Regions from separate parts of the Homo sapiens genome. Here region 2 is linked to region 1. A link means that fine-mapping ties the variant in region 1 to the expression of a gene that starts in the linked region. Tissue or cell type: stomach. Region 1 holds a variant in brackets; the other region holds the start of a gene. All regions are shown on one strand. Distances are between the middles of the regions.

What was found. PIP is the estimated chance that this variant, and not a neighbour inherited with it, causes the effect.
Region 2: it holds the start of DHFR2, and the variant in region 1 is fine-mapped to the expression of DHFR2 in stomach (GTEx, PIP 0.93).

The regions. Positions count from the first base shown.
Region 1 is chr3:94,308,553-94,312,888 of GRCh38, reverse strand. No RefSeq gene overlaps it. Among named protein-coding and RNA genes, the nearest start is that of NSUN3, 250 kb to the right of the region's middle. The variant T/G (reference allele first, on the strand shown) is at 1,787.
Region 2 is chr3:94,060,763-94,065,098 of GRCh38, reverse strand. DHFR2 (dihydrofolate reductase 2) reads left to right here and starts at 2,183. Exons shown (of 2, transcript NM_176815.5): 1 at 2,183-2,353; 2 at 3,493-4,336. The coding sequence starts at 3,588. The coding sequence ends at 4,151. NSUN3 (NOP2/Sun RNA methyltransferase 3) reads right to left here and starts at 2,038. Exons shown (of 6, transcript NM_022072.5): 1 at 1,961-2,038; 2 at 553-662. The coding sequence starts at 1,972. RefSeq lists an enhancer at 1,905-2,144.

The sequences.
Region 1 (4,336 bases):
AGAGCAAGACTCCATCTAAAAAAAAAAAAAAAAAAAATTGAAAGTGCAATAAATTGCAATAAGAAAGAAGTAAAACTTAACAGAAGACTCAATTTTATCTGTTTTTGTCCAACCTACAGAACAAATCCATTTAAAACTCCAAAGGCTCAACTAGCATTAAGGCTCACATGTAATAACCTTGTCACTGATAAGAACTTGTTATGTTAAGATTTAATCCATGTGTAATGTAAATATATGATCTTCAGCAGAACTCTGTCATGTACTTCATAACTATGAATATATAAGTGAAAGAAAAAACTAAAATAAAGATACATTTTGAAAGTGTGTTAAAAACAGTCTTTAATACAGATTCCATAGGCTCAGATTCTTGGCACTTAGAACAAATCTTTTCCTTGACAGCTCTAAAAATAAAAGGATTGACTAATCAAATTCACAACTTTTAAAAATTTAAATTACTTCAGAGGGAAGCTTTCTGAGCATATTTAAATAATTCATTTACAGATAAAGTAAATTTTAATGAAACAAGAACTTCAAAATTTTGTAAATGTACTCTGCATACATTCAGTACTTAAAACTTGCCTCTAGTTTGTCTGGCCTCCTTATCCAAAGTCAACTCTTGTTTGTTTGTGTTTTTTAAGAGCACTGGTCATTCAAACACTGCATCCAAAGGCAGATCCCGGTTTTATGTGGTTTATACAATTTAAAGAGCCCTCTCTAAGAATAAGAATAAAAAGGCACATGTCTATGAAAATGCATTCCTAGTGCCCCTCCCTGGAGCATCATTATCTTCATGGGACACCTGCTTCTCTCTGTCCCTTATTTTATAATCAAGGAAAACTAGTTTTCCTCTGCCTTGATTGTAGTTGTACCCTCTTTGAAGAATTAAGAATGCTTTCCTTTTCCAACAGAATTTAGTTTACTTTCCAGACTTTTCTTTTTCCCCAACAGAGGTTTCTTGGCCTTCTTTCAGCAGCCTACTGAACTCCTTTCCACTTTGTACTTTCAAGAACAAAGACAACAATTCACTTTTCCTCATAAAGATTTGTTCTTATGACTGCAGAGATTCCCTTCGTATCGCATCATCATTTTCTCCCAGTTTTATAAAATGAAGATCATAAGGGAAGAATAAATCAAATGTTTCTATTCATTCTTTCCCAAGGAGAAAAAAGTTCAGCTTTTTCTGAGATGATTACAAGGCGAGCAAATAGCCTTTCACTGTGTTAACATGTCAGGATCAAGAACTTTACTACCTTGTTAAAATACTGTTAGTAATCAGGATACAAAAATGGAACAGATTTATATTTCTTCTTGAATGGCTATAAATGGCAGTAGGCTATGCACAATAATTACTCAAATAATCTGAAACACAAAGGAGGGTATAAAATCAAGAGAATATAAAAACAAGTGCAACCAGATTACTGCTTGCAACTTGCCTTCAGACTCTAGCTGCAATATCATAAAAAAGGGAGATATAAACAACAAAGAATGGAAAGAAGTAAGAAAGGATTAGAAAAATACTGGCAAATATTGTTGATAATTCCTTTCATTTAAATACAAATTATGATTACATTTAAGCAAGAGAACCACATACAATACATTTTGAATACTCAAATCCATTAAAAATGAATATAAACTCTCTTTCTTTACCAAGCATTTTTTTTGTAAGACAGCTTTCATGGGAAGTCTGGCTACATATTTCCAATTACTTAGCATCTCACCTAGCAATAAGGAGATATACTCATTAATTTTAAATCGTTTATTCCAGACTAACAATGAGCTGGCATAC[T/G]GTTTGTGCTGGAAAGGTTGACATGGAAAGAGCTTTATTCAATATTTGTTTTTATTATTATCTTCATACCGTCTTACTAAATAGATTACTTATGAATATGGTAATGAATAATTTGGACTCATAGTTTGCTTTGTTAAACAAAGCATCAGCATCTGCCTCAGGGGAATCTCTTACTTGAGTCTTAGCTTAAAACATTCCTGCCACTTGGTGTTAGACACTAAGTTACCTCCAAGCCCCTGAAATGAAACCTCATCCAAAGCTTTGTCATTTTCTTGAGAGACAAAGACGCAGCCTTCTGAGAAATCAACTGTAAACAGTTGATCAAATTATTGCTACCTTGTAATACTACATCATGATTCATGATCTTAGGGCTTATGTTTTGAAGATAACATCTGAACTGATGTGTCAGCCCAAATTCATAAAATCCAGAAGAAAAAACATAATGTGTACCATCTACTTCCTAGGAAAAAATAAATAACTAAAAATAGAAATAAGTACAGCCTCTGTCACTCTAAAAATGCACATGAAAGCCCAAATGCAGATCCCACAGCATATGCATGGGAGCCATTTGGGACCATATGATGCAAAGAGACAGCGACCTCTCCCTGGAGTAACCCAATAGGAATAATAAACTAATTACTTATTTCAAACCAGAGGCCACTGAACATTCCTTCTTATTTCTTTTCCTCTCATTCCTTCTCCCCCAAAGAGAAAACAATTTTTAACACAGACTTTGTGCATGCAATGTGCTAGCCGTTAGAATAGTGTAACAAAAGAATTGAAAGACAGTATCTCAAGTCTCCTAATTGGGTGGGAGGGGCAGTAAGGAGGAAAGAAACAGGTAAATAAGTAAACGAATAACTACCAGTTTTCTGCATCACTTTTCCTTTAATGTACAAATTATAATAGTGCAAGTCATTATCCAATCTGTGTCTATTCAATTTTGTTGTTTATGATGTTGAGGAATCCCAGTAAGTTCTGATGCACTTCACAGTTTATTTCTGACTGCCACCGTTTGTCTTTTAGAGTGACAACCTGCCCTGGCTTCTATCCTGTGAGGAACTCATGGGATTCTCTCTGAAACACTTAACTTTCTACAGCCTGTTCCCTAATTTTCTTCACCCCCAAGCATGGATAGAGGTAAAACTAAAGGGTCTAAGAAGGCGTGGATCATATCTGGGGGATTGAAACTTATTATAACCTCAGAACCTAACACAGTGCCTGGCATACAGGAGAGGCATTATAAATACCTGTCGAATGGATGAATGAACATTTGAAAGAATTCATAAGCAAACACATGAAATATAAGATTTTTTTCTTCTCTTCTCCCCCAAGTCCTAGGCCCCTTCCTCCATATATGGACAGTCAATATGACTTTTTAAAATTTCTACAATGATACCTTCAATGATAGAATGAAAAAAAAAACTTTATATTTTGTTTCAGAAAACTCTCAAACCATTTTTTCTATGTGTTCACACCACGACAACTACAATCAACACAGAAGAAGACTTCTGTGACCAAATGTGTGGGAGGTTTTCCCCACACACTAAGCAATGGACACCAGCTGGGTGGCCTCCAATTTAAGTCCATCACTGTCTACCGGGAGATAGGCCAGATACCACAGGTTGAGGTATTAGTCCCCATGGCCACCTGCCTACACACACACCAGTCACAAGTCCAGGCCTCCAGAACTTCTGACTAACCAGTTTCAAGTTGGAGTTCTCATAACCCCATCTTTGGGGTTTGATTTGCTGAAATGGCTCACATAACTCAGGGAAACACATCTATTGGTTTATTATAAAAGATATTGCAAAGGCTACAGATGAAGAGATGTGTAGGGCAAGGTATGGAGGGAGGGGGGCAGAACTTCCATACCCTCCCTGGGCACACCACCTTCCAGGAACCTCCTTGTGGTCAGCTATCTGGAAGCTTCCTGAACCCAGTCGTCACTGGTTTTTATGGAAGCTTCATGACATCAGCATTCCTTCCACCAGGGTATAGGGCAGGACCCTCTCTGGGTCTTAAAACCTTCAATCAGAAAGGTGGGGAAGATTTGATTCCTGCCTTGAGGCAGGTGAAAGGAGGATAGGAGAAGGTCAGAGAAATTCTATTTCCTGAGGCCTTCCCCTGAAACCTAACACACCCAACTTTATAACAAAAGACTGTAACAAGGGTTATGAGAGTTATGAACCAGGAACTGTGCATGAAAATCAGTATATATAACACCACATTTTCTTACATTATTCTAATATTAAACATCTCAGTGGCCTCATATCTGTACAATTCAAAAGGCTCTCCAAAGCAGTCCTTCTCAAAATTAAGAGAGCACTCTCCTCCCCTCCTTTTTCTGCCCAGGTAAGACATGAAAATTCCATACCTTTTACTTTTATATGTAATACTTTTCCTCATATCCCTCTCTTTTGCTCATTGTTTATACTCTTATTTATTTTTGAACCTATCTCTATAATCTCCATACTCTGTAACACAGTAAATTGCAAGATGAGGTCTAGGCAAAATTATCCTCTGGGCTTTGGGAGATAAGAATTGCAC
Region 2 (4,336 bases), 250 kb after region 1:
TTACCAAACAGACAAATCACATTTCTCCCACTTCCATGCATTAAACATTCCTTATTTTTATATTTAAATAATTTTGTGTGTATATGCACGTGTTCAAAATATACCCAGCCATCGACATAGGAAAGAAATATGATTACCAAATAAAGTGTACCTTTGGCTGAGATAAAGCAGTGCTGGCTTTAAAGATTTGTTGTATTATCTTCTAAATTTCAGAAATCAGTCAAATATTCCAAATTTTATGTTTTTTTCTTTTACAGTATAATTAATTTTGTCAAACTAGTGGGCATTCCTATTTCAAGGATCAAAGTAATTGCTCAAAGCAAAGGCGTAACAATTTGTGCTTACCATCCCGACAAAGTTTTATTTCCCCTTTCCAACATGCTATGATTCATTCTATTTCTTCTTAGTTGTTCCTTTCTATAGCTTCAGTAGGAAAAGGCAACCAGATTTAGATTCCTTTGCCTTTTAACCTCACAGCATCCCTCCCACAAAAAGGAGGACTACATATTGTACTTTGTTCCATCATAAAGCATCGAGATGAATTATACTAACCTTACTGTATTCCAGGCATCTCCGAGTTCTTTGGAATACTGTTTTTCAAAATGATCCAACACAACTTTGCAAATCTGTTTTGCAAGCTTCCCCTCTGATTTTGCTTTCAGCTATGACGATAAGAAAAAGTTGCTGACACACAGTGATATTACAAATTTACTGAACGTCAACATTAGCAAGGTCTTTTTTTAAGACAAGAACACTTTTTTTGGATAATTACTAGTTCTTGAAATGGAAGCAATACCTTACATGTACCAAAACTGTACATTATCTAATTATGAAAAAGCAAGGTTTTTCCAAATAATTATTTTCCAAATGTGAAGCAAAGGTTAAAACAGAATCTACTGGGGCTGAAGAAACTGTCAAAAGGAACAAAATTAATTTTAAAAAGTCACTGTAGGGGCTAGGCAGGTGGCTCACACCTGTAATCCCAGCACTGTGGGAGGCAGAGGCGGGAGGATCACATGAGGTCTGGAGTTCAAGACCAGGTTGGCCAACACGGGAAACCCGTCTCTACTAAAAATACAAAAATTAGCCGAGAGTAGTGGTGGGCGCCTGTAACCCCACCTACTCAGGGGGCTGAGGTGGGAGAATCGCTTGAACTCAGGAGGTGGAGGTTGCAGTGAGCCGAGATCGCGCCACTGTACTCCAGCTGGCTCATGCTTTGCAGGGACGAGGCGAGAGGATCATTTCCCAGTTCAAGACCAGACTGGAAAACATATCAAGGACGTGTCTCTACAAAAAGTAAAAAAAAAAAAAAAATTAGCCAGGCGTAGTGGCCTGCTCCTGTAGTCCTAGCTACTAGGGAGGCTGAGGCTGGAGGATCGCTTGAACCCAGGAGTTCAAGGTTACAGTGAGCTATGATGGAGCAGCTGCATTCCAGATTGGGTGACAGAGCAAGAACTTGTATCTAAACAAAACTAAAAAGTCACCGGGGATGCTGACATCAAGAAAAATTGGTGAAAGGTATTTGAGAACTCTGTACTATCTTTGCAACGTTATTTTAAAGTGAAAAGTTAATTTAGGGAGAAAAGTCACTCCAATTTCATCGTGAACTTCCTTGCAATTGTTTCATTTATTCATCCAAGAAACGTGTATTCAATGCCTACTATGTAACAGACACTGTTCTAAGCTCCCGGGATACCGCTGTGACACAGAAAACAAATCTCAGCCCTCCAAGAGCTGGAGGGAGTGGGTACTAGAAGTCTGCGAGCTGGACGGAAGGGACTCAGCATTACAGCACTCAGCATTATTTCAGGGCTTGACAGTAAAGCCAAAGAAACGCTGATCTCGCGAGGGGACGAACAAAGGTGATGTTCCCCCATCCCAGCACCCTCCCTCGCCACCTCGGCCGCGTCCAGAAGCGTCTCATTCAGATAGAGGTACCCAGCCGGGCCCCAGGTCTCACCTGGGTCAGCATTGTCCCGCTGAGAGCTTTCAAACAACAGGTGTACGCGAATCAGTATCAAAAAGCCTCCAGGGAACTGAAAAAAACAGTCTGACTTCCGGGATTCGCGGGCATCCACTTTCATTCTCACGTTTCCTCTTCAATTTCTCGCGAGATACTGATTTGCTCGCGCTATAGAATTCTTGTCGAAGAGGCTTAGCTCCCGCGGGAGATTTCGTGCGCAGTTACTTCCGGTAGCTGGTAAAGGCTGATACTTCCCAGGACGCGGAGGTAACGGGCCAGGGCCAAAGCGACTTTCGCTACTTGGATTGGTCGGCGTAGCTTTGGGCGGCCGGACCTTAGAAAGTCACACATCTGCGCGCCTGTGCGGCCCCTGCTTCTGCGGATGCTGAGGTGGGAGGATCGCTTGGGCAGAAGTTTGAGGTTGCAGTGACCCGTGATCGCGCCACTGCACTGCAGCGTGGGCGACAGAGCGAGGCTTTGTCTCAAAAATAAATAAAAAGTCGCATATTGTGCTGAACAGTGTGTATATGCATGGGGCTCAATAAAGGAATGAGTTTTGGGGTTATGTTGTATGATGACTGATTTAAAATATTCTCAAAGCGAAGCTAGTTACTGACTTAATCTACCAAATCTAGTGACCCCTGTTAACCTAGACATTCAGTACCCAAGGATAAAAGGGTGGAATATAATGAAAAAGAAATTAAGTCATGCTTTTCCCCAGACCTGGCCCATGGGGATAATCTCTCCTTTTAATGGAGAGTGTTAAACTGAAGTAGGCATGTAAAGCGGTTACAACAGTGATTAGGAAACAGTAAATGCCCAAATGTTAGCTGCTATTATTTTCACTATTGTGATCATTGTGATTTTTGTCGCGTTGATACCAAATGCGTGAAGACCAAAAGGACCCTCCACTCTAGCCTCCCCAATTCACCTTTACAAGGGAGCAATGTTTAATGGTTCTCCAAGGAAGATGTTTATTACACCTATTTTGACACGAATAGAAGTTTATTTGCTCTTTTGGTGTCATGCTTCAGTAACTATCATTTGTAGCAGCAATCAGCAATTAGAAAAAACCGGTTTGATATGGTCCCTGATAGTTAATAATCATCATTTTGAGTTGTTCCTTGATGCTCATATCAATATACGTACATGCTATAGGTACAAGTCTTATATTCATGTAAAAACATGTCTTTCCTTCTAATCTGATTTGAAGCTTAATATATTTATTTATTTAAACAAGTTTCCAAGTCACCTAAAAAATGCATCTTATTAGAATTTAGATTTGGTACAAAAGACTATGATAATCAGGAATGAAATGATGCCATCTCTTGGATGCCGTCTGTTTAATGTTTGTGGAAAAGTCGGTCTAACCTTTCAGCCTCTGTATTTTTTATAATTTTATAAATTTATATTTTATAAATATTTTATAAATTTATACTTTATAAATATATTTTATATAATTTATTTTTCTATGTTCATTCCAGAATGTTGCAATTAATTAATACAGTGGTATTGTATTTGCAATGTAGGCACGTAAAAAAATTTGAAGAAGGGAATTTCGCGGCATTCTTGGCCTGGCTTCCTGGCGTAGCCAGCAAGTTCGGAGGTGTTAACCGCTGCTGTCATGTTTCTTTTGCTAAACTGCATCGTCGCTGTGTCCCAAAACATGGGCATCGGCAAGAACGGGGACCTGCCCAGGCCGCCGCTCAGGAATGAATTCAGGTATTTCCAGAGAATGACCACAACTTCTTCAGTAGAGGGTAAACAGAATCTGGTGATTATGGGTAGGAAGACCTGGTTCTCCATTCCTGAGAAGAATCGACCTTTAAAGGATAGAATTAATTTAGTTCTCAGCAGAGAACTCAAGGAACCTCCACAAGGAGCTCATTTTCTTGCCAGAAGTTTGGATGATGCCTTAAAACTTACTGAACGACCAGAATTAGCAAATAAAGTAGACATGATTTGGATAGTTGGTGGCAGTTCTGTTTATAAGGAAGCCATGAATCACCTAGGCCATCTTAAACTATTTGTGACAAGGATCATGCAGGACTTTGAAAGTGACACGTTTTTTTCAGAAATTGACTTGGAGAAATATAAACTTCTGCCTGAATACCCAGGTGTTCTCTCTGATGTCCAGGAGGGGAAACACATCAAGTACAAATTTGAAGTATGTGAGAAGGATGATTAATATGAAGGTGTTTTCTGGTTTAAGTTGTTCCCCCTCCCTCTGAGAAAAGTATGCATTTTTACATTAGAAAAGGGACTTTTGTTGACTTCAGATCTATGGATAATTATTTCTAAGCAACGTGTTTTTATTCCTCACTAATCTTGGCTATATCAGATACCATTTATGAAACATTCTTGCTATAACTG